Homo sapiens: one gene and its partners. The protein of the gene in region 1 interacts with the protein of each later gene in a pairwise test. Each region holds a gene or a part of one and is shown on either strand. Other genes may lie near its edges.

Region 1 (7,081 bases):
TGTCTCTGTCCTCTTTGTCCTCTGCCCTGCTCTGGCTGAGCCCAGGGCTCTTATGGACCCAGAGGGAAGGAAGTGCATACTAATTGGTTCATGGGCAGGCCCGGAAAACGCACCACAAGTCCCCACTTTGGTCCCCGGGACTGGCAGCCCGGCCCCAGCCTTCATGCCCTCCCTGGCCTGAAGGTGGGGCCTTACCGGGGACCTACCCCCTTCTTCCCAGGAATCTATCTGCCTCCTGCTGCCATACATGGCGCCTGGGCTCGGCCCCAACTTTGCTCCAAGATCGGAGCAGGCACCAACAATAGGAGTAAGCCAGGCAGTGAGAGCAGGCACTTCTGAGCCTGCAAGGGCCCGGCAGAGGGGCCTTTCTGGGCCCCCAAGAGTGCAGGGATGCCTGAGGCTGTGGTTTGGGCAGCTGCAGTTGTGGGCCTGCCTGCTCCGTGGAGCGGGAAGCCCGGGTCTGCAGCCATAGTTTGGGTGGGGCGAACCCCAGGGCTGCAGCCCCAGGCAGCCCCACGCAGATCCTCCTCCCGAGGCCCGGGAACCTGACATCTTCAGTGGGGTGGGTGTGATGGCTGTGCCACTGGCTGGGTCCTCACCGCTGGTGCCACTCTCACTACCCACCCCAGGCCCCCGAAGCACAGCCCCAGCTCTGCATCGGGGCCCCTCTCCACCCAACCATGCTGCTCTCCTGCCATGCTGAGGGCAGTGGGCTATGGTGTGGGGAGTGGGGTCTGTTCGCCTCCTCCCTGTTCCCTCCCTGCAGCGGCAGGTATCACGTGATGGCAGCAGCTGCACCAGTTGGCCTGCTGCTGGCATCACCGCACTGGGCCAGCTGTGGCCAGACTGAGGTCAGGAGTTCCTTCAAAGCATCAGCCACAAAAGCTGCCTCCTAAAGGGGGTGTTTAATGGAAAAGCCAGCCCCGCCCAGTGGTAGGAGTGGCCAAGACACGGCAGCGGCCTACCCCTGCCTGCCCGTCTTGAGGCCGAGCCCAGTGCCAGCACGCTCAGTGCCCTGCCGGCTCCTTGGACCTGTCTGTGTTCCTCTGTCCTGCTGTGCAGTTTCCGCCGATGGCCGTCCCCACCCTGCCCTCCTTCCCTCCTGCCTTCATCCTTCCAGTTGCAGGGCTGGGGTTGCCTCGTGTGTCTGGGGGCGCCCAGCACGCTTCCTTCTCCTCTTGCACCGGCCCAGGGCCTGAGAAGCACATGGTGGGTTGTCTTGGCCTAGAGGTCACGGCTCAGTGCCCAGGTCCTGCCACAGGTTGGGTGCCCTGGCACTCATGGCGGCCCCGAGCTACACGAGCTGGTCTCCCCCACCTTTTGCTCGTAAAGAAACTGAGGCTTGGGGTGGCCTGGCTGTGAGCCTGCAGTCTGACCACTGAGGCCAGGCCTGGAGGCCTCCATGGCTGACAAAGGGGTTCTCTGGGGTTGTCCTGGGCAGAGGCGAGCCTCCGCCCTATCTGATCTTTCCTGACCTCCTGCCAGCGGTCTGTCGAGGTAGCAGTGAGCCGTGAATAATTCCTGAGCTGAGCGGTGTGCGGACGTCACGCGGCCAGCATTCTCTCTGTATGGGGGTGGGGCAGGGAGGAACCCTGGACTCGGGTGGCAGCACTGGCCGCCTTGCCAGACTTGGGCCCCTTTGTGGGAAATGGTGTCCATTTTTTAGCAGTTGCGCAGGACCGCCCAGCGTCCTCTTCCCGGGAGCTGGCCCTGTGGCCCCGGCCCTTGCTTGAGAGCTGTGGAGTCTGGAGGGCTGGGGAAAGGCAGGGCCAAGCCCAGGAGGCAGGGCCTGTGGGGTGGGCAGCTCTGGCTGGAGTGTTCCGGGGGAGGGTGGGGAAGGAGGATAGGGTCAGGTCTGTGTGGAGCTGGGGTCACCCTAAGGAGTAGGGGGGCCGCCGAGGCTCCGGGTCCAGCGCCCCCATGCCCGGAGCCCTAATTGATTTTATCTCAGCCACAAAACTCAGTCCCTGTGATCTAAAAAGAGCAGGTTGTTGCAGGTTTGCGGTGGTGGACTTTGGGAAAATCTCTTGAGACCACTAGGTCTTAGCACCCAAATGGCAGAATTTGTCCATGGATGAAAATAGGGTCCTAGCGTGGCCCCGTGCTTTGTGGTGGAGACACCTTCGGCCTCCCCATATCTGCGAGCCTGGCATTCCCGTGGCCAGCGCCTGCCCATGGCCCCACAGGAGCCACCATCTGGTGAGGGGGCTGCTCCTGCTCCGAATGGGGTGTGGGGTTGCTTCTCCAGCGCTTGGCCCTGGGCCTCGCCGGGGAGGCTGCCGGTGTTTCTGAACGGAGGCCTCAGCTCCCCGGCCTCCAGGGCACCCGCAGGCACCAGCCCCTGTGGGAGTGGCTCGCAGGTGGGAGCAGGACCCTTGCAGGCATGTGGGGGGAGGCAGGAGCTGCCCCAGCAGAGCCACACGGAAGGTCTGAGTCTGTGTAGAAGACAGGCTGTGCCAGCTTCGCAGTCCCCCCATCAGATGTGTAGCCGACAAGACAGAAACTGCCTCTTCCGTCTCCCCCATGGGGGCTGCCTGGGGCGTCTGAGCCCCCGTCCTGTGTTCACGGCCGGGCCACTGGGGCTCTTGTGCTTTGTGGAAGGGGCTGCAAGGTGTGATGTGTGGGGCACCCCGGGCCTCAGAGGGCATCTGCCCACATTGAAGTGGCCGTGGTAGCAGCAGGGGCAGTGCCTCTCAGGGGTCCCTCCACCCAGGTGCGTGAGGACACCTTCCGAGGGGTCTGTTTTGTAAACATCTCGGCCTCCGTGAGCGCTGAGCCGGGGCGAGGGCTCTGTGAGGTGAGTGATGATCTTGGGGAAAGCCCCGGATGCTGTTGAGTGCCGGTCACTGTGGCCTCCCTCGCTGCTGGCTCCCGGCCTGTTGGGCAGCCGCCCCTGCTGAAAGGTGCCCTCTCCACCCCTGGCAGGAAGCCCCTGTCACCCTGACCCCCGGTTCCTGCATGTAGGCTGCGGAGGACCCGGGCACGAGGAGCGCAGGCCCAGGCTGGTGGCCATCAGAGGTGTCCTTCTGAGGCTGAGCCCTAGGCCCCTGCCCTGCCCGCGAGGGCATCTCTGGGTGAGGTTTTCGTGTGTGTTTTCCTAGAGGTCTTGCAGTTGTGAGGACAGAGGTCCAGGGCACAGTGGGCTCACCTTGGAGTACGCAGAGCCAGGCTGCCTCCGTACGGAGAGACTTAAACTCACTTAGACCTGGGGTGGTGGCTGGTCAGGGTTAGGCTGTAGGCGGCAGGACGTGGCCACACCGTCAGGGGTTTCCTGAGATGCCGCAGGCTCAGGTGTGCTGGGGAGAGGCCTGGGTAACCTGGTGCCTCTGAAGCCTCCTGAGGTGGCCGGGCCTTGGTGGACCTGCAGGAACCTTCGGCTTCTCACGGAGGACTCACCGTGCTCTGCTCTCTTTAGGATGAAACAGGCGCCTATTTAATCGACAGAGACCCCACCTACTTTGGGCCTGTGCTGAACTACCTGAGACACGGCAAGCTGGTGATTAACAAAGACCTCGCGGAGGAAGGTAAGCCGAGTTTTGGGCACAGGTGCCTTAGCTTTGGGGGCAAGGGCCCGACAAAGGTGCCAAGGGCTCCACTTAAGACACAGATGCCTGCAGCCTGGGGCCCCAGGGAGGAGCAGGCCCTGTACTCTGAAGCTGGGGCCGACGTTCTGGTGCTGAGGCCACGGGCAGCGGCGCAGCTGCCGGACAGGGAGGCCTGGGGACCCTGTGGGTGTGGGGTCCTCCCTGGCTGCAGCTCCTTGGAGGGCTCCCTCTGTCCAGGCTCCGGCTGGCGACACAAGGGGTGTGAGGGGTTCCTCCCTGCTGTGACTGAGGTGGTCTGAGCGGGTGTGTGAGGCACATGCCCGGTGATGCCCACGGCGTGCTTCAGGGCCTGGTTCCCTGGCCTGCTCTCCCTCAAGGACAGCCCAAGGGTGGTGAATGTCTCTGTGCCATCACCTGGACTGTGCCTGCTGCTGCCAGCTGCCGTGTTCCATTCTGAGTGATCGTGGTGCAGGGACGGCGCCCACACGCGTTGGGCCCAGGCTGGCCTGCCTGTGTGCTGCGGTGCTGGCTTGGCTCAGAACAGCTCGAGGCCTCGCCGTGAAGGCTGAGGGTTTCTGGGCACCTGCGTGCGGGCGTGGCCCTGCTCCCCCGGGTCCGTGTCTGCGCATCGGTCTGCACTGGGCAGCGTCTGACTCCGTTTCTGTTCTGGGCCTCTGGGCCTCGGCATCTGCCTGCCTCCTCCGAGTTCACGCGGGGCGTGGAGTGACGGGGGCTGTGGCCCAGCCCTGCCCCTGCTCTGAGGCTGTGAGCCATGATCCCCACTCCTGTCTCTTTGGCAGGGAATGTCTTTCACATGTACTCTCTCTGGTCGCTTGGGCAGCCGCTTGTGTTGTCGTGGAGCCGCTCGAGTCGAGGCTTCGCTTTATCTCATTCTGCCCCTAGTGGGATTGGCTCAGAAACGGGCGCTAGACACAGACCAAGGCCCTGCCGCCCAGGCTCACCGGTCTGCCTCTATCCCGCCCCGATGCAGCCACTCACGCCCTGGGTGCTAGAGAAGGGGGCTGTGCGGGACCCATGCGGGGCCGGGAAGCCTGTGTCTCTGAGGCCCTCGTCTCCTTGTCTCTATCCTGCGTGGCCCTGTCCCATGTAGGTGGCTGGGTGTTGTCCTGAGCTGCCATGTGCCATATGTGGGTTCCTCTGGGGTCCTGGAGGAATGAAGACCACCCATGAGGAAGCCCTGAGGCAGGACCTGTGGAATCTGCTCTTAAGGCTCTTAAGGGAGGTTTGCAGTCCCTAAGTGCGGCACATTACGGATGGCAGTCTTTGGGAAGAGCTGGAAGTGACCCTCTCAGCCAGCCACAGTCTTCCCTTTGAATGGGGTCAACTGAGGTGCCAGGTGACTGAGACATATGCACAAGGCCGCAGGCCTGAGCCCCACACAGCACCCCACCCAGTGGCGTGGCCATGAGCAGGTTCCCAGCAGGAAGCGTCGGCCTCCAGGCTTGGAGGGAAAATGCCAGATCCAACCCCCAGCATACCATGGCCTCGGCGTAGACATACGCTGAGCTGCATGTAAGCAGCGGCTCCATACCTGGCGGGTCACTGGAGGTCACTCAAGGTTACCTGGGGTGACCTGAGCTGGAGGTGTTCAGTCCACACATCGGCCCTCTCACCACGGCCCCTCCGCCCATTATCCCAGGAGCCCTGCTGGGCTGACACGTCTGCAGGAAGCCTGTTAGGTCGGGGCCTGAGCAGCTCCCGCTGGGCCGAGCCATGGGCCCTCATTGCAGGGGCAGGGGCAAGGGCAGGGGTGGGTGTAAAGCGTGGATTCTTTGGTTTAGTTTGGTCTGGTAAAGACAATTTATTTTTCCTTATTCCAGGAGTGTTGGAGGAAGCAGAATTTTACAATATCACCTCATTAATAAAACTTGTAAAGGACAAAATTAGAGAACGAGACAGCAAAACATCGCAGGTGAGACAAATGACTGAGGCTGGAAGCTTGTATGGCTGGTGTGAAGGAAGGGCTCCCCTTTACTCCCCCGACCGGCTGCCTCCCAAATAAGTCCTGCGGTCTGGGGCTCTCCTACCCTGAGACCCTTGTCCTCTGTCACTGCCCCAGTGCCTGCCAGCTCCGTCTACCCGGCTCTCCCCAGGGTCCCTTGAAGGATCCATTCATCCTGCCCGGCCCAGACTCTGGGAGCCCCCAAAGGATGGCTCTGAGGAAGTTGGGCACGGGAGACGTGTGTAGGGAAGGAGGGCCCCATGAGGGCCGGTCGGGGAGACCCTGAGGTGGATGGCATCTGGTAGGGAGCAGAGGGTGCCAAGGGCCTGCAGCCAGCATGGCTGGAGGGAGACAGCAGATGGGTCGTGTGGGTCTGCGCAGGCGCCAGAAGGACCTTGGTTTTATTGGGAAGAGGGGCGGCTCGCCACAGACACACCTCTCACAGCTGGCACGGCCCTTCTGCAGCCAGGGGAGCCCAGGTTGTTGGTGGGCTCTGCCCAGTACCTCCTGTGGAGGGGCCACTGCTGGGCCTTGGGCATCAGTCCCGTCCCTGAGAGCTGAGCCCGCCCCCCCCACCCAAGCTCAGCTCCCTTGAGAAGGCACCAGGAGTGGGGTGTGTGCCGCACTGTGGCCGCGGCTGCCATCAGAAGTCTCGGTCCACGTAGAGCCCTGGGCCCTGTGCAGACGCTCCTAGCCTGGCCGCTCAGGGCCGCTGGCCACCTAGCGACTTGCCCAGTTCCCCCTCCTGCTGGAGCTCCCTTGGTGCCACTGAGGGATCTGGAGGGGCTCCTTGTCTGTGGGGCAGGAGCTGCGTCCCGCGCCCCGGGTCACCTTGTCCAGTCTGCTTTTTTCCCTGTTGTGTGACCGGGCTGTGTGGGCACTCCCTGCCTCAGTCTACCTACCTGTATGACGCAGGTGGGCAGGAAATGGTGCAGGTGGGAGAGTCTGCGGTCCAGCCTTGCTGTGACACAGTAGCATCTCACTGTCTTGCAGAATAAAGCAACTCGGGCATGTGACCTCGAGGCCACTGTGTGCCTTTGTCACTCAGGCATCCCTGGCATGAGTCACCACCTTAAGGTCAGGGACCCAGGACCTCTGAACCCCTTCTCACTGCTGCGTTTCCGTCCAGCCCCGTCTGCAGCCTGAGTCCTCCGTAGTGACTGTCCAGGATGTGGGGCCACCCCGCCCACTGGGGAGCAGCTCCATGCAGGCGGGCGGCCCTGGTGGCTCACCATCACTCCCAGGACCACAGCTGCCTGGAGGGGCACAGCAAGCGTGCCAGGCAGGTGGGGGATTAGGAGGTGGATGGAGTTTTAGGAAGCAGCTCAGCCTTCGGGAGGCCCAAGTCCAGGCTGCCGCGCAAGTTCAAGAGCCTTTTTCTGGTAGCTGGGAGCGAGCTTCGTCTGGCACTGGCTCTCAGGGCCCTGCTTGCCAGAGCCTTTCCCGACCGATGAATTCAGGGCTGCACGGTTGCTGCGTGCGGAGCAGACGTGGACGCTCTCGTGTCGTCATGTCGAGCCACAGGTGCTCTTGGGATTTCAGGAACATGACTCATTTTATTTTGGAACTTAGA
Region 2 (7,985 bases), on another chromosome or scaffold:
AATTAGTCATTTCTATAATTCCTTTGAGTATATCCATTTTCATGTCTATTCTCCTGAGGGAAAAAAAAAAAAAGACCTTACCGATAGCATATGCTTCTCTGCTCCCAACAAACTCTCCTTTTGAGTTTTACTCTATCACTTCAGAACTTCAATTCTATGCCACAGCAGTTCCTGAACTTCAGTGGCAATCATATCAGGATTTTTCTCTTACAGTGGCTTAAGTGACTATGTTACACTGTGTTTTGTACAAGATACAGGTGACTTCTAGATCTCATCTAGCTCTAAAATGCTGCACGAGTGTAGGATTCAAAGCAAATCTAGAAAATATTCTTAGAATATGGAGTCGGATGTTGTTTTCTACGGGCCATACCATTACTACTTATTTTATAAGCCATTTTATCTTAACAATTTTCTGAAGTTTTTTAATGTTTCCATTCCCACTAACAATTTCATGTCTTGTAAACTGTTCAAACCAGTAATATATGTACTATTTTGTATCTTTGCTAATATCACTTAGAAAAAATTAGAACCTGATAAGCTCAAGTTTCATAAATAATGTAAACACAAGATAAAATGTCACAGTGCCAGGCTGAGACAGGAGAATGGCGCGAACCTGGGAGGCGGAGCTTGCAGTGAGCCGAGATCGCACCACTGCACTCCAGCCTGGATGACAGAGCGAGACTCTGTCTCAAAAAAAAAAAAAAAAAAAAGTTACAGTGCCAAGATAACTGCCTTATGAGTTAAAACTTTTAAATGAATTCTGCAGTCTCTAATAAGAGTTCACTCAGTATTAAGCCATCCACATAGTAAATAACAATACTGCTTAATTTTTACAATAATACTGTATGTCCTTGTGAATGTCTGAATAGAAATATATTAACTATCGGCCAGGCGCGGTGGCTCACGCCTGTAATTCCAGCACTTTGGGAAGCCGAGGCGGGAGCATCACGAGGTCAGGAGATCAAGACCATCCTGGTCAACGTAGTTAAACCTCGTCTCTACTAAAAATGCAAAAATTACCCGGGCGTGGTGGCGCGCGCCTGTGACCCAGCTACTCGGGATGCTGAGGCAGGAGAATCGCTTGAAACTGGGAGGCAGAGGCTGCAGTGAGCCGAGATCGCGCCACTGCACTCCAGCCAGGCGACAGAGCAAGACTCCGTCTCAAAAAAAAAAAAAAAGAAAATTAAAGAAAAGAAATACATTAACTATCAATAGCAAGTAGAAACCAGTGTAGGGATTGTAAATGATTATACTGCTACTCTTCAGTATAATCAACACACATTGCAGGCCTCCTCTTTAGGGGTATTCCACAAGTTACCAAACTTCCAATATTTTAACGTGATTTTAGGAAAAACTCCATTTCTTACATTAGGAGACATAAATCTCCATAAGACTGGTTTCTATACAACTGCAATAACGTTGTAAATTATCTAAGTTTTGATTTGGGGGAAGAGGAAAAACCCTAAGAACGAAGTACCATGGTTTTCTGTGTTAAATTCTAGAAAGCTATCAAATGTTTAGGATTAAAGCACTACAGTAGACATTTTTTATCACTATGGTTCTAAGACATTAAAATACTTTTAAAATGCTGGTTGAAAATCATATTCTCAAGCACAGAAAAATTAACTGTATTCCAGAGCATTTCCTTGTTTATCTCCTTACCAAGCCTAAAACTCAACTAATCCTTCTTTCAAACAGCTGGCAAACTCCCTTTTCTGAGAGGAGTGACTCATAAGTTATAGGAAATCCACAAAAACTACGATTTTTTCCCCCAACAAACTTAATAACAGGCACAGAAGGGGCGGGGGGGGGGGGGGGCGGAAGGCCAGAAAGAGAACAGACAGAGAAGAGCATTCAGTCTGTTTACTCCAAGGGCGTCACACCGTGCCAATATCCAGAGCTTCCTAAAAGCAAATGTTCAAACTGCAGTTTCTGGACACACTGTCCTAGAAGTTGAACAGATCCTTCAAGCCCATGCACCAAGAAATTCTGAAAATAAATAACTAGGTACTGCAAACCTACTGCACTCCCATCACAGAAATCTTTCAAATTACAAATCCCCTAATTAGGCGCGGAAAAGAACACCGCACTCTTCCCTAAGAAAACCGACACCTCGTTGACCAAAGAGAAAGGAAAGCAAGTTCATCTCCAACATCCAAACCACAAAGCCAGGTTTCTACTAAATAAAGTCCTCAAATACACTCTAATCTGAGATGAGGTAAGGAAGGCTGTGTAATGGTTCTCCTTGCCTGTTGGGAGGGGCAAAGGTTGGCATTCTAGGACAGCAGCTACTCTGCCACATGGGCCTGGTCCTCGGTAATTCCAAGCGTCCCTTCTGCCTCTCCCTTCCCAGAGCAGATGCTTCACCAGCTCCAAAATCCGCCCGACGTTCTTGCCGCCTGGAGGCCCCCACGTTCCCCTCCAGGCTTGGCCTCCCACGCTCGCCCTCGTTCCTGCGACTCTCGGTCCCCGTCGACACCAAAGGAGGAGGCCGCCAAGGCATCCCCGCTGCAAGCCCGCTACCCGCCGACTCACCTGGTCCCCCCTACGTTCAGTTGGACGATCTCGCCGCTGCCGGCCGCCGCCGCGGGGAAGCTGCCGCAGTGCCCTCCCGCCATCTCCGGCGGCTCCGGACGCGCTCGCCGCCCTCCTTCCCCAGCCGGGACCGCCGAGCCCGGGGCTGTAGCCCGAGGCAGCGGCGACGGCTGCAGGGCCAGCGGGGCGGCGGCGGCCGGAGGGCGGGGGGTGCACGGGGCTTCCCCCACCTTCCCGGCGGCCGGGCGGGGCTCGCTAGCTTCTGCCCCTTCCCGGGTCAATCCTGCGGTGCACAAGGGCGGCCCGGCCTCCACCTTTCGCGGCCTCCAGGCCGCCGGGCCGCCCGGGCCTCTTCTCCGTGCTCCGCTGCCACCGACGCCGCCGCAGCCTGCCTGGGAGGAGGGGTCACCGTTCGGGACAAAATACCGCAGCGCTCACGCTTCGCCCGCCACTGCCGCCTAGAATGAGGAGGAGGAGGAGGAAGGAAAGGTCAGGGAGGAGCTTCCCAACGCCGCGGGGCTGGCGCGTAGGGAGGCTAGGGGAATGTGCTCCTGGCCAGCCGCCTGCCCACGCGGGATTCCATTTCGTTCCTCCTCCCCACGCGATCCCAGCCCCTTTCCCTTTTACATTTCAGATTTTCTAAAACGAGGAAGCTGATTCGCAGATTGAGGGCAGATCTGGGCAAACGATCTACGGATCTTTATGACCCACTTTGTCAACATGGATTGGGAAAGGAAAAACTAATCCTAGAGGTAGTAAAAGTTGATGCCTAAATGTAGACAGTGCAAATGCAGGGAACATTTGGAGATTTTAAAACCTTACAGCGTTTACCCCAGAAAACTGCTTACTTTACCCTCTTCAATTTAATCCCCAATCTCCCAAGCAGTTTTTTTGTTTTGTTTTTTGCTTTTGTTTGTTAAGCAGGAAGGAAACCAAAGGACAAAAACCCCTAGACTGTGTAATGCCCAGCAACCTATTTCTGGAATATAGTAAGCACTCAACTAATGTTAGACACACGCAGAAAACACACAATTTTATGCGCTTGTTTATTTATTTGTTTTTGCTTTAAACGGTATCTATTCAAACCCAAAACCTTAGTGGCTATTAAAATATTTTTTAAATCGGAATACTATAATACTTGATGCCCTGCTAACAAAGACTAACAAAGATAGTGCGTTATGTTTCAGAGGTCATTAGTTTGTGGTACTAAATTCTTAACATGAATTGTTTTGTCATAGTTGTATCATAATAATTCAAACTGATAATGTATCTGATGTTAAGTTTTTATTGTCATTGTCATAATTTTTACCAAAAAAATAAAAAATAGCCTCTGGCAAGCATACTAATGTTGTGATATGCTCTATCTAGATTCGACTTGAAAGATGTTAATAGTACATATGGATGTAAGATAAGTATTATTTCTCCCAGTTGATGATAAGCTTAATAATAGCTAATTTGTGTTTATCATATACCCGGTGGTTTAGATATTTTGTCATCTTTCTTCGTCACAACTAATGTTATAATTATTTTTAAAAAAGGAAATTTGGGAATGAAAATGATCAAAAAAACTTGCTCAAAATTACATAGGTAGCAAGTGGGATGGCAGGAATTTCAAGGCAAGCAGCTTGAATTCAAGGCCACTGTTCACCATCCTTACCACTGCATTGTACCTCATTATCTTCACTTTAGACAGGGAAGATGAGTAACAGTTCAGATTAAAGCAGCAGCAACTAGGAATCTAAACCAGGGTGTCCAATCTTTTGGCTTTCCTGGGCCACATTGGAAGATGAATTGTCTTTGGCCACACATAAAATACACTAACACTAACGATAACTGATGAGCTGAAAAAAAGAAAGAAAGAAAGAAAGAAAGTTTATGAATTTGTGTTGGGCCACATTCAAAGCTTTCCTGGGCTGCATGCGACCCATGGGGCTGCAGGTTGGACAAGCTTGCTTTAAACAATGTTAACTGCCTTTGCCCTAACACATAATATCTGGTTCTATCAGGATCTGAAACTTTGCTTTAAAATTTGCAGCGAAGATTTAAGTGGTAAAAGGGCCATTTAATTTTCCTTAGGTCCAAACCTTGGAAGAATATGAAAGAATAGTTGCTAACAGCCTTTGAATCCAAGAGGCAAGTTGGAGTTAGAATAAGGCCTTATAAATTTAAAAATATATATATTTGTGAAAGGCTTCTTATTTTTCCTGAAATAAATGAAACCGTGTTCATTTTATTATACTGTACTTAAAAATTAGGAGAACATCTCTTCAAGAGAAGGAAAAGTTCTCAGTATTTTATAAGACAAATGGTCATGACTTCTTGATATGTCCAGAACAATATAGAGATATCTGAGGCATTTCTTGCTCATAAAACTTAAAGTTAGGGTGTGACTTAATTTTTAAGAATAAATTGGAACACCATTAACAAAAACAAATAGCAGAATGAGAAAAGATATTTGCAACATATATCAAATGATTGAAAATATATAATATCTGATCATATATGTATATATTATTCTACAAATAAATTGAGAAAACAAGTAATGAAAAATATGGAAAGAATATCAACAGCCAATTGATAAAAACACTAAAATGCTTATTAAAACAACAGAAAGCTGGGTGTAGTGGCTCACACCTGTAATCTCAGCACTTCGGGAGGCCGAAGTGGGTGGATCACGAGGTCAGGGGTTCGCGACCAGCCTGGCCAATATGGTGAAACCCCGTCTCTGCTAAAAATACAAAAATTAGCCAGGCGTGGTGGTGCGCGCCTGTAGTCCCAGCTACTGGGGAGGCTGAGGCAGGAGAATCGCTTGAATCTGGGAGGCAGAGGTTGCAGTGAGCTGAGATCGCACCACTGCACTCCAGCTGGGACGACAGAACGAGACTCCATCTCAAAATAAATACATAAATACATAAATAAATGAATAAAACAAAAAATGTATTTTTACTCATGAGATTAGCAAAAATTAAGAGAGGTTTGATAAAATTCAAGGACAGTGAGAGTGTGAAATGATCATACTCATGCATTGCTGATTAAATTATGAATGGGTACAGAGTTTCTGGAGGGCACCTCAAGAATATCAGCATTTTAAATGTAAATACCCTAGACCCAGCACTTTTCTTCTAAAAATATATCCTATACACATTTTGCTCAATTGGCAAAGGTACATGCAAAGAAGTAAGTGCATATTCATGGTAGTAGTGTTATAATAGCAAAAACATGGAATATTCAACAACAAGGGAATAATTTTTAAAATTATGTTGGAAGCTATTACTATTTTGGGGGCAAATTCATGTGAACTGACCAGAAATGATCTCCAAGTATATGATTTAGTGGGGAAAATAATCAGATTACAGAATAATACATTATGAGTACAATCTCATTCATTTAAATAATGGAAAAACTAAAATCATGTGTATATCCACTTATATTTCTATATAAAAATACATATTAAACTACGAAGAAACATAACCTCTAGACAGATCATTAGAATCAGTGAGGAGAAGGTAGCAGTGGTGAATGGACAAAACCTTTTACCCCTATGGTCTTTCATATTGTTTAACTGTTTACAGTGAGTTTTCTTTCATGTACTACCTGTATGTATGTATGAATGTGTAAATAAATAGAGTAGATACATTCAAGGTTGTCCCCATGACAGCTTTTTAAAGTTTATGTTATTTTAATATTTAGGCAATACAAAGTAAATAAAACATTATTTAAATAATATTACCTTCTTTAGTGACTATATTGAATTTGTGATGTCTACTCGACCAGTCCTTGTCAAACTATCTCAGGTAAGAACTAGTTCAATTTCCAATTTATGGGGTGATTTAGTCAGGACTCTCTAGAGGGACAGAACTAATGGAATATATATATGTTTTATAATATATGTATTTATAAATATATATTATATATATGGAATATATATATGTATATTCCATTAGTTCTGTGATGGGTAAACTCCCCTTTATATATATATAGCTCGGGCGGGCACTGTGGCTCACACCTATAATCCCAGCACTTGGGATGCCAAAGTGTGCGGATCACCTGAGGTCAGGAGTTCGAGACCAGCCTAGCCACATGGTGAAACCTTGTCTCTACTAAAAACACAAAAATTAGCCAGGCGTGATGGCACGCTCCTGTAATCCCAAGTACTCGGGAGGCTGAGGCAGGAGAATCACTTGAGCCTGGGAGATGGAGGTTGCAGTGAGCTGGGATTGCAGCACTGCACTCCAGCCTGGGTGACAAGGCAAGAGTCCATCTCAGAAAAAAAAAAAAAAGTTTCCAACCTCTTAGTCTCATTTTTGTGCTTATTTAATTGCAGACTATTCACAGTTTGTGGATGGGCATCAATTCATGAACCACACTTAAGTGGCCACACTTAAAGTAGTGTTTATTATCACTTAAGTAGCACACTTAAAGTAGCATTTACTTGAAGTGTGGTTATACTAAAAGTAGTACACTAAAAGTAGTAACCACACTTAAAGTAGCGTTGTATTAGATATCCAAGTAAGATGTTGAGTAAGCTGTTGTATAAAGGACCTAGAAGTTTCAGAAAGAGAACTAAGCTAAAAATTCTCTTATTTTTACTGAAATAAAACTTTGGGAATGAGTAGTATATAGATGGCTGTTAGAGCCATGAGACTGCCTAAAATCATAAGGAGGTGAGTGTAGAATGAGACAAAAATAGAAATCAGAATGGAGCCCTTGACTATCCAATATTAAGAGACTGGGGAGGAGTTCCAGTGAAGGAAACTAGAAAGGAGTTTCAGCCAGATGGGAGGAAAACCAAGGGAGCATGGGGTCCTATGAGATCACAGGACAAGTAAGATAAGAACTAAGAATTGACTTTGGATTTAGTGACATGAAGAAAAATAGTGTGGTGGAAGTAAGGGCAGTTCTAGTGCAGAAGTGGGAGAAAAAGCATAATTGGTGGGGTTTTGCTATAAAGAAGAGCTAAGAAACAGACAGTAGCAAGCTAGGGAAGTAAGGCCAAGAGAATGTTTTGTAAAGATGTTTTAAAAAAAAATAACCACGTTGATGAAAAGCAATCAGTAGGTAGCAAAAATCTGACCATTCAAGAGAGGCAGAAGATAATTATTAGAGTAACGTCTTTGAGTAAATGAGGAAGATATCTAGGCATCAAGTAAAGATAAAGAAACTGAGCCACAAGGAGGATCAGTAATTTGCCCAGTGTTCGTTGTTGCTGCTATTATTGTTATCTTCTAACCCACTCTATATTTAGATATTATTATTATTATTATTATTATTTTGAGACAGCGTCTCACTCTGTTGCCCAGGCTGGAGTGCAGTGGTATGATCTCGGCTCACTACAACCTCTGTCCCCTGGGTTCAAGAAATTCTCCTGCCTCAGCCTCCCGAGTAGCTGGGATTACAGGTGCCTGCCACCATGCCTGGCTAACTTTTGTATTTTTAGTAGAGATGGGATT
Region 3 (7,086 bases), on another chromosome or scaffold:
AGTGGACCCAGCATCACCATATCTTTAGTTTAAAAAAGAGCCCCAAATCCAAATGTGTGGGAAACCTTTTGATCTTTAAAATATTGGCTCAAATGAAAATAAAAACAGAAACAAAACAATATGTGAGCTGGGGCATTACAACAAGCCTGTGGACTGGAAGTGGTCTTATTTGCCACCTTTGGATTCAGTTTGGTATATGACACTGAGTTTCATCTTCCTTATCCACTCTGTAGATGTAAGACAGGGTTATGAGTGGCAATGGGAGCCAGAGTTCCTCACCAAAAACACGCTTGTAGGCAGAGCAATGACTGAACCCTACCCTTACACTAGGTGCTTTGCACCAGGGCACAAAAGCCTGCTTCCAGACCCCACCCCCGGTCAAAGTGGGGCATAACTAGAACCGAATTTACCAGTTTGTTTCCCTTCTTTGGGGCTATAGTTTAAAAAAAAATGCCTTGTTGAAAATCCCCCAAAGTACCTAAAAGTCCTTTTCTTTTCTTTTGTCTGACACCTACAGTTGGAGTCATTTGGGCAAATGTTTAGTTGCTCTGAGTTTCTGTTTCTTCATCTGAAAAATGGAGTAATGATAATTATATCCTCCAGTTTGTTGATCAATATTTGTTAACCACCAGGCACAGGGGTACAATGGTGACTGACATGGCTCCTGAACTCGCAGAGTTCACAAATAAAAACAAATAATCACATCAATGGTCAATTCATCATATTTGTGCTAAACGCTGCGGAGAAATACAGGTGAGGTGGGAAGATTAGAAGTAAGGTATGTAAAGTGCCTGGCACAAATAAATGAATCAGCAGGTCAAGTAGTGGAGTAGGTAAGAACATGGTAGGAACCTAGATGTCAAAGAAATTGATGAAGCTTAGAGCTCTTGGCAAAGTTGTGTCCTTAATAAAAACTGAATGGTTGAGCCATCATCCAAGCTTTTTGGCATCTCTATGTGGCAGAGACCCTGAAGTATTCTATGGTCTGCTGAATGGGAAGAAGAGAAGACAACAGCTTTCCAGCTCTCCCTTCTCCCACTCTCCCTTTTTGGATAACAGCACTCCCACGGGGGTCCCAGAGTAGGCTGGTGGGGGAAGCAGCTTTGGGGTTGGAAGCTAGACCCAGTAGGGGTTGGGGGTCCAACCTGGGGAGTCTCCTACGGAAGTGTCAGCCTAGGATAGGAGATGGGGATGCGGATGAAGGTGGAGCTTCTGACACTCAGTAAGTGCTGACATTTTCATTAATTAAAAACCTTATTGTGATCTGAGACACAAAGGAAATCAGCATGAAAACTGGGTTACAATAAGCACGGGTTCTGGACCGATTCATTTTCTCTCTCATTCACCTAGTTATTTTTATTCTGTGTTAGCAAGGCCCTGGGCGAGGCGTGGAAGATCAGAGAAAGATGGCATAGCCTGTGTCCCTGTGGAGTTCACAGTCCAGGGCAGGCAACAGACATATCAACACAATGTTTCATCACAGAAAGGGGAGTGCTACCAGAGGGAGGCACAGAGGGCTGTGGGCACAGAGAGGGCACCTGACGCAACTGGGGAGGTCAGGGGAGGCTTTGTGGGAAGGTACCCCAAACGGCAACCCCACTCACATGCACAATTCCAGAGATTCTACTAGAAGGCTGTCAAGAGCCATGCCTTCTGGCTGCACCAGCCTCCCAGAGTCCCCTGCTGCCCGATGCAGTGTCTGCAGAGCCAAACGCATCTTCCGCCACGCCTCATCCTCATCCGGCGCCGCATCCGACCCTCCAAGACTCCTGCAGGAGCCTGCCTTCCTGGGCAGGCTCAGCCAAAAGACCAACTCAAAACTCTTTTGTCAGAGCAAGCTTAGGGAGAGCCACCCAGCCCCGAGTGCCACAACCCTCCCAGAGCAACCGTGGCCCATGTCACCCCCGCCTCTCAGTGAACTTTGGCAGGGTACCTCCCGTTATCTCCTTTGCTCAAAAGAAAGTGACCTTCTTCCAGGTGGCAAGCTGGAAGCTTTGGGGAATCCTCCTACTGTTCGCTCTCAGCAGGATTCTCCAAACCTGGGATCTCAAGGTCGGGGTGGGCTGCCTTGCGGAGCAGGGGAGGGAAGAAGGGCAGGTTCTGCTGGGTTTCCACCTCAGTGCAGAAACCCCACCAAAAACTCCTCCGGGCAGCCTGGCTGTCTGCTCCAACTGCTCTGCTGGGTATGGCGAGGAGGCGCCAGGAGACACAGCTGCTGAGGGGGCCGCGGCTGCAGGCGCTGCAGGGGACGGAGTGGAGCCGTTCCCGGGGGCAGAGGGAAGAGGCTGCAGTCGTCCAGTCCCAGAGCCCCGAGATGGCCTGTGGCTGAGGGAGCAGGTGGGCCCGGGGGAGGTGGCGGGCCGAGAGCGGAGCTGCGGCCTCGGGATCACAGCCCAGTCCCAGTCCCAGTCCCAGTGTGGGTGTACGGCCGGAACGCCCGGAGGCGGCGGGGAGAGGGGAGCAGCTTCAGCCTAGTCGCAGGAGCGCGGACCGAGCCTCGGCTTTGGGGAGAGGGGTCCAGCCTCCATTCCCGCCCCGGGGGAGAAAGCTTCGGCGCCGGACCCGGGGGAAGGCTGCTACCCCAGCCGCGGCAGGATGGCCCATCCCCAACCCCGCCCCACTCCCGCTCCCGCTCGGGGAAGGTGAAAGCGCCCGAGCCGCCGAAGTCTCCCCGCTCGCTCCTACCTGCGGGCCGGGCACCAGGTTGGGTTCGTCATCCTCCCTGGGGCCGTCGTGGTCGGGCTCCGCCGGCGCCTCCGGAGGGCCTGCACCCGCTCCCGCCTCCAGGCTTGGCGGCGGCGGGGGCTCGGGCGCCTGGGGCTTCTGCGGCCCCGCGGCCCGAGCCCGCTCGCGCCTGCCCGCACCGCCGCTCGGCCTGCTCCGCCTCCGCGTCATGCCGCCGCTCGCGCCGCTCCCTCGCTCCACACGCCGCCGCCGCCGCCGCCGCCGCCGCCGCCGCCGCCGCCGCTACCGCTCCCCTCACAGGACAACAGCCAATATGGCGGCGCCCGGTTCCCCCCCTCCGCCTGCTGCCAACAGGTCAGAGGGCACGCGGAGTCCGCGCCGCCGCACTAGCCCCCGAGGCCGCCTGCGCCATTTTGAATAAGGTCACCACCCGGAGTTCGCTGGGAGAAAAACTTGGTGGGGAGACGCCCTTCCCCCCCTACGCGGGACGGGAAGGATGCAACCTGCTGGAGGAACGCGTGTAATGCGGTGGTAATCGCGCTGCACCACCCTAGCACTTAATAATTGCCTGTTAAATGGATGAGTGAATTAATTTCTATAGTGTTACAATACTTTCACACCCATCGTCTGACTCCTTCCGACAGCACAGCGAGGCAGGTACGGATCATTCCCATTTTGCAGGTGAGAAATATTGAGGCAACATAAAGGCCTGGAAAAGGTTGCTGTACATCATTTTGTTGGAACTCCTGGGCTCGTGGACGGCCTGAGTTGAAAGGGACGAAGGTCTTTATTTGCAACATATGGTCTACTGGGAGTCCAGCGTTCTGTGCTTGGGACAGTGGGACTCAAACCCGACTCCTTGTTCCCGAGTCTGATGGGGAAGGTAGACACGTAGGTACATAGTTACAACCGGTGTGATAACGATGAGACGACTAGGTGTTTCCAAAAAAATAGTATGTGCAGGAGAGGATTTTGGAGTGGTACACAAAGGAGAATTTTTAAAACTTAATAATTATGTATTTAATTGTTAAAAATGGAATTTCCCCCCTCTTTTTGTGAATATACTGTATAATACATGTACATGGCACAGATTAAAAAAAAAAAGTTTTGAGTGAAGTCTGTCTCATGCCTGGGCTATGTACTCTGAAATTGTGGTTATATGCAGAGTTGCTATTGGTATCAACAGGGGCGGAATCCTGACACTGGCTTCCTAACCCATGGGGCAAGGGCTATTTTGAAAGGAAGAGCTACATGGAAGGCCCTGGAGCTCTCCTTAACTACCAAGAAAATAAATCAAAAATAGTACCTTATCTCACCCAGGGATTAATGCCACTATCAAAGATTTGAAAGACGCAGGGTGAGTCCCATCACATCACCATTACCTCTTCAGTTTGCCCAGAACAGAAGAGAGACGGCCTTGAAGAACAACAGAGCATTATGATAAACTTACTTATTCTGGTAAGAACCCCAACTGCAGGCATTCTTCCAGATGCGGTCCTTCTTGGGACAGATCAGCACAGTTGTTGGTCTCTAATAGGCAACAAGAGGTCTGGTCAATGGTTATTCTTCTGTACCAAACACCAGGAATCCCTTGCATTGATCTGGCAGGGGCAGCGGTAAACCCTCACTGTCTTGCTTCAGGGTATGTCACACTCTGGACCCAGCCACTTAGTTTACAGGGATTTTTTTTTTTTTTTTTTTTAATGACAGAGTCTCACTCTATCTCCCAGGCTGGAGTGCAGTGGCGCAATTTCAGCTCACTGCAACCTCCGCCTCCTGGGTTCAAGGGATTCTCGTGCCTCAGCCTCCAGATTAGCTGGGATTAGAGGCACATGCTACCACGCCCCCTAATTTTTTTGTATTTTTAGTAGAGACGGGGTTTCCCCGTATTGCCCAGGCTGGTCTCGAATTCTTGACCTCAGGTGATGCACCTGCCTCGGCCTCCCAAAGTGCTAGGATTACAGGCGGAGCCACTGCACCCTGCCAGTTTACAGGGATTTTTTTTACTAAATCTCCATTCTAATGGATATCAGGCTAATCTGCTGAGGCACTGATGACATCATCTTGATGGACCTTAAGAAAAGGGAATAGCAGATATCCTGGATGATTTGGTAAGGCATGATGTGTGTGCCAGAGGATGGATAATAAATCTCACAAATATATAGGGGCCTCGCAGTAAGCCATCTAGGAGTCTGGGATATGTTGAGATATTTCGTACAAAGTGAAGGGAAAGCTGCTGTAGATCACACTCCCTACTAGGGAAGAGGTGCAATACTTGGGCTGGGGCTTCTTTAGACTTGGTAGGTAACATAGATGTATTTCGATACATTATTATTATTATTATTATTATTATTATTATTATTATTATTATTATTATTTTGAGATGGAATCTCTGCCACCCAGGCTGGAGTGCAGTAGCGGGATCTCTGCTCACTGCAACCTCTGCCTCCCGGGTTTGAGTGATTCTCCTGCTGGCCTCCGGAGTAGCTGGGGTTACAGGCGCGCACCACCATGCTCAGCTAATTTTTGTATTTTTAGTAGAGACAGGGTTTCACCATGTTGGTCAGGCTTGTCTCGAACTCCTGACCTCCTGAACCTCCGGCCTCAGCCTCCCAAAGTGTTGGGATTACAGGCATGAGCCACCGCGCCCGGCCTGTACTTAGGTACGTTATTTTGACCAGTTACTGGGTCACTTGAAAGCTGCCAACTTTAAGGCAGGATCATACAAAAAGAGAAACTTTTCTTAGTGGACCAGGCTGCAGAGTAAATAGTTCTGGCTTTGGTCTTAATACTCAAGCATTGGATTTTGGAGCAAACTTATGCTTTCCTTCAGCAAATAGTTATATTCCATTTTAGAAATAGCTCCTGGCTTGCTTCAGGGGTCTGGTGAAATTGGATGCCTGATCCTGGCCTACTAGGTGACCACGTGACCTGAACTGAGTGTTATCTGATCTACTCAGCCATAAAATCAGGGGTGCTCAGCAACACCCTGTCATCGAGAGGAAGTGACATGTGTGGGTTGGGTCCATGCAAGTCCTAAAGCACAAGTAGGTTGCCAGAGCAAGTTACTTACATTCCTCTGCTGCCACCCTCTTCTCCATTCCATCCTTCAACCTGGATCAGTGGTTTCATGAACGGTTTAATGATGAGTTGACTAAGGAAGAAAAATCCAAAGTCCAGTTTGCAGATGGCTCTGCATGGTGTGCTGGCTCCAGCCAGAAGCAAATTGCTAGAGTGTTCTAGTCTTCCTCAGACAGGGCCCAAGGGCACAGAAAAGGGAAATCCACGCAAAGACCCTGAAATAAAGACACATCAATTCCTGGCCATTGGATCATGATTTACTCTGTTGTTGAGGGACTTGAGGGAAAAAAAGACTGCAGGCTTAGTGACAGGAAGTTCTGAGGATGACAGATGTGGAAAGATTGTCCAGAATGGCTTCAGAACATAAGGCTATTTGTGTCCCAGATGAACGTTCATCAAAAGAACCTCTTAAAAGTCCGATGGGCAGTATGGCCCCTTCTGTGGCTGTCAGACTGTCTCTTCCCAGCTATTTAAGAACTTATTCAATGGCTGCATGAGAAAACTGGCTCAGCAATTTGGACTGTCTCCTCCCTGAGGCTGGCTGACCTATCTACTCTCAGTGCTGAGTCCAATTTGCAGGAACCAGCCAGAGGTCCGTGTGGAACCTTACTCTGAGGGGCACACCTGACTCTCTTCTAGCAGGATGATTACTTTGGACTATGTATTAGGGCTGGTTAGCTGCTGTAACAAACCAACCTCACATAGCAAGAGTTTTAACACCTTAGATCTCGTCTACCTCGTGTCGCAGGCCAATGCCTGTTGAAGGGGACTTTGCAGTCACTCAGGGATCCAGTCTCCTTGGATCTTGTGGCTCTGTCTTCACCTCGGCTCTCAAAGTCCTCTTCATTCATCCAGAGGATGGGAAAGGCAAAAAAGTGAGGGTTGCATGGGACATTTCTATGAGCTGTACCCAGAAATGAATATACATCACTTTTACTCACGCGCCATTGGGGAGAATTCCACTGTATGGTTCCCCCAGAGGATAATCCTTCCCTCCTACTTCTTCCTCTCTCCCCAGGCAGCACTGATCTGCCTTCTGTTTCTACAGAATATTTTGCATTTTCATACAGTATGTATTCTGCTTTGCCAGGCATCTTTCCTGCAGCATAATTATTTTGATTCATCCATATTGTAGCGTGTTTAGATAGCTCATTCCTTTATACTGCAGAGTAGTATTCCATTGTATGGAAGTATCACATTTTGTATCCATTCAGTGCTGATGAGCAGTCATGACAAACATTTCTCATGCATTAAATTAGCTTATTATGCTGCTCTGAGAACTGGAAGAAAATATATTTAAAGCCCAGTACAGGCTGGGCG

Evidence for each region. The genes of interacting proteins can lie anywhere in the genome.
Region 2: the proteins of KCTD5 (region 1) and KCTD3 come close enough for resonance energy transfer, tested with the Homo sapiens proteins (one study listed by BioGRID).
Region 3: the proteins of KCTD5 (region 1) and FAM193B interact in a two-hybrid assay, tested with the Homo sapiens proteins (one study listed by BioGRID).

The regions. Positions count from the first base shown.
Region 1 is NC_000016.10:2,692,520-2,699,600, forward strand, and holds part of KCTD5 (BTB/POZ domain-containing protein KCTD5), read left to right. Parts: intron 1-3,415; coding exon 3,416-3,524; intron 3,525-5,386; coding exon 5,387-5,478; intron 5,479-7,081. UniProt on the Homo sapiens protein: Its interaction with CUL3 suggests that it may act as a substrate adapter in some E3 ligase complex. Does not affect the function of Kv channel Kv2.1/KCNB1, Kv1.2/KCNA2, Kv4.2/KCND2 and Kv3.4/KCNC4.
Region 2 is NC_000001.11:215,562,319-215,570,303, reverse strand, and holds the start of KCTD3 (BTB/POZ domain-containing protein KCTD3), read right to left. Parts: upstream 3,001-7,985; 5' UTR 2,619-3,000; coding exon 2,536-2,618; intron 1-2,535. UniProt on the Homo sapiens protein: Accessory subunit of potassium/sodium hyperpolarization-activated cyclic nucleotide-gated channel 3 (HCN3) up-regulating its cell-surface expression and current density without affecting its voltage dependence and kinetics.
Region 3 is NC_000005.10:177,551,564-177,558,649, forward strand, and holds the start of FAM193B (protein FAM193B), read right to left. Parts: upstream 3,001-7,086; 5' UTR 2,896-3,000; coding exon 2,686-2,895; intron 2,533-2,685; exon of another isoform or gene 1,788-2,532; coding exon of another isoform or gene 1,605-1,787; intron 569-1,604; exon of another isoform or gene 479-568; intron 1-478.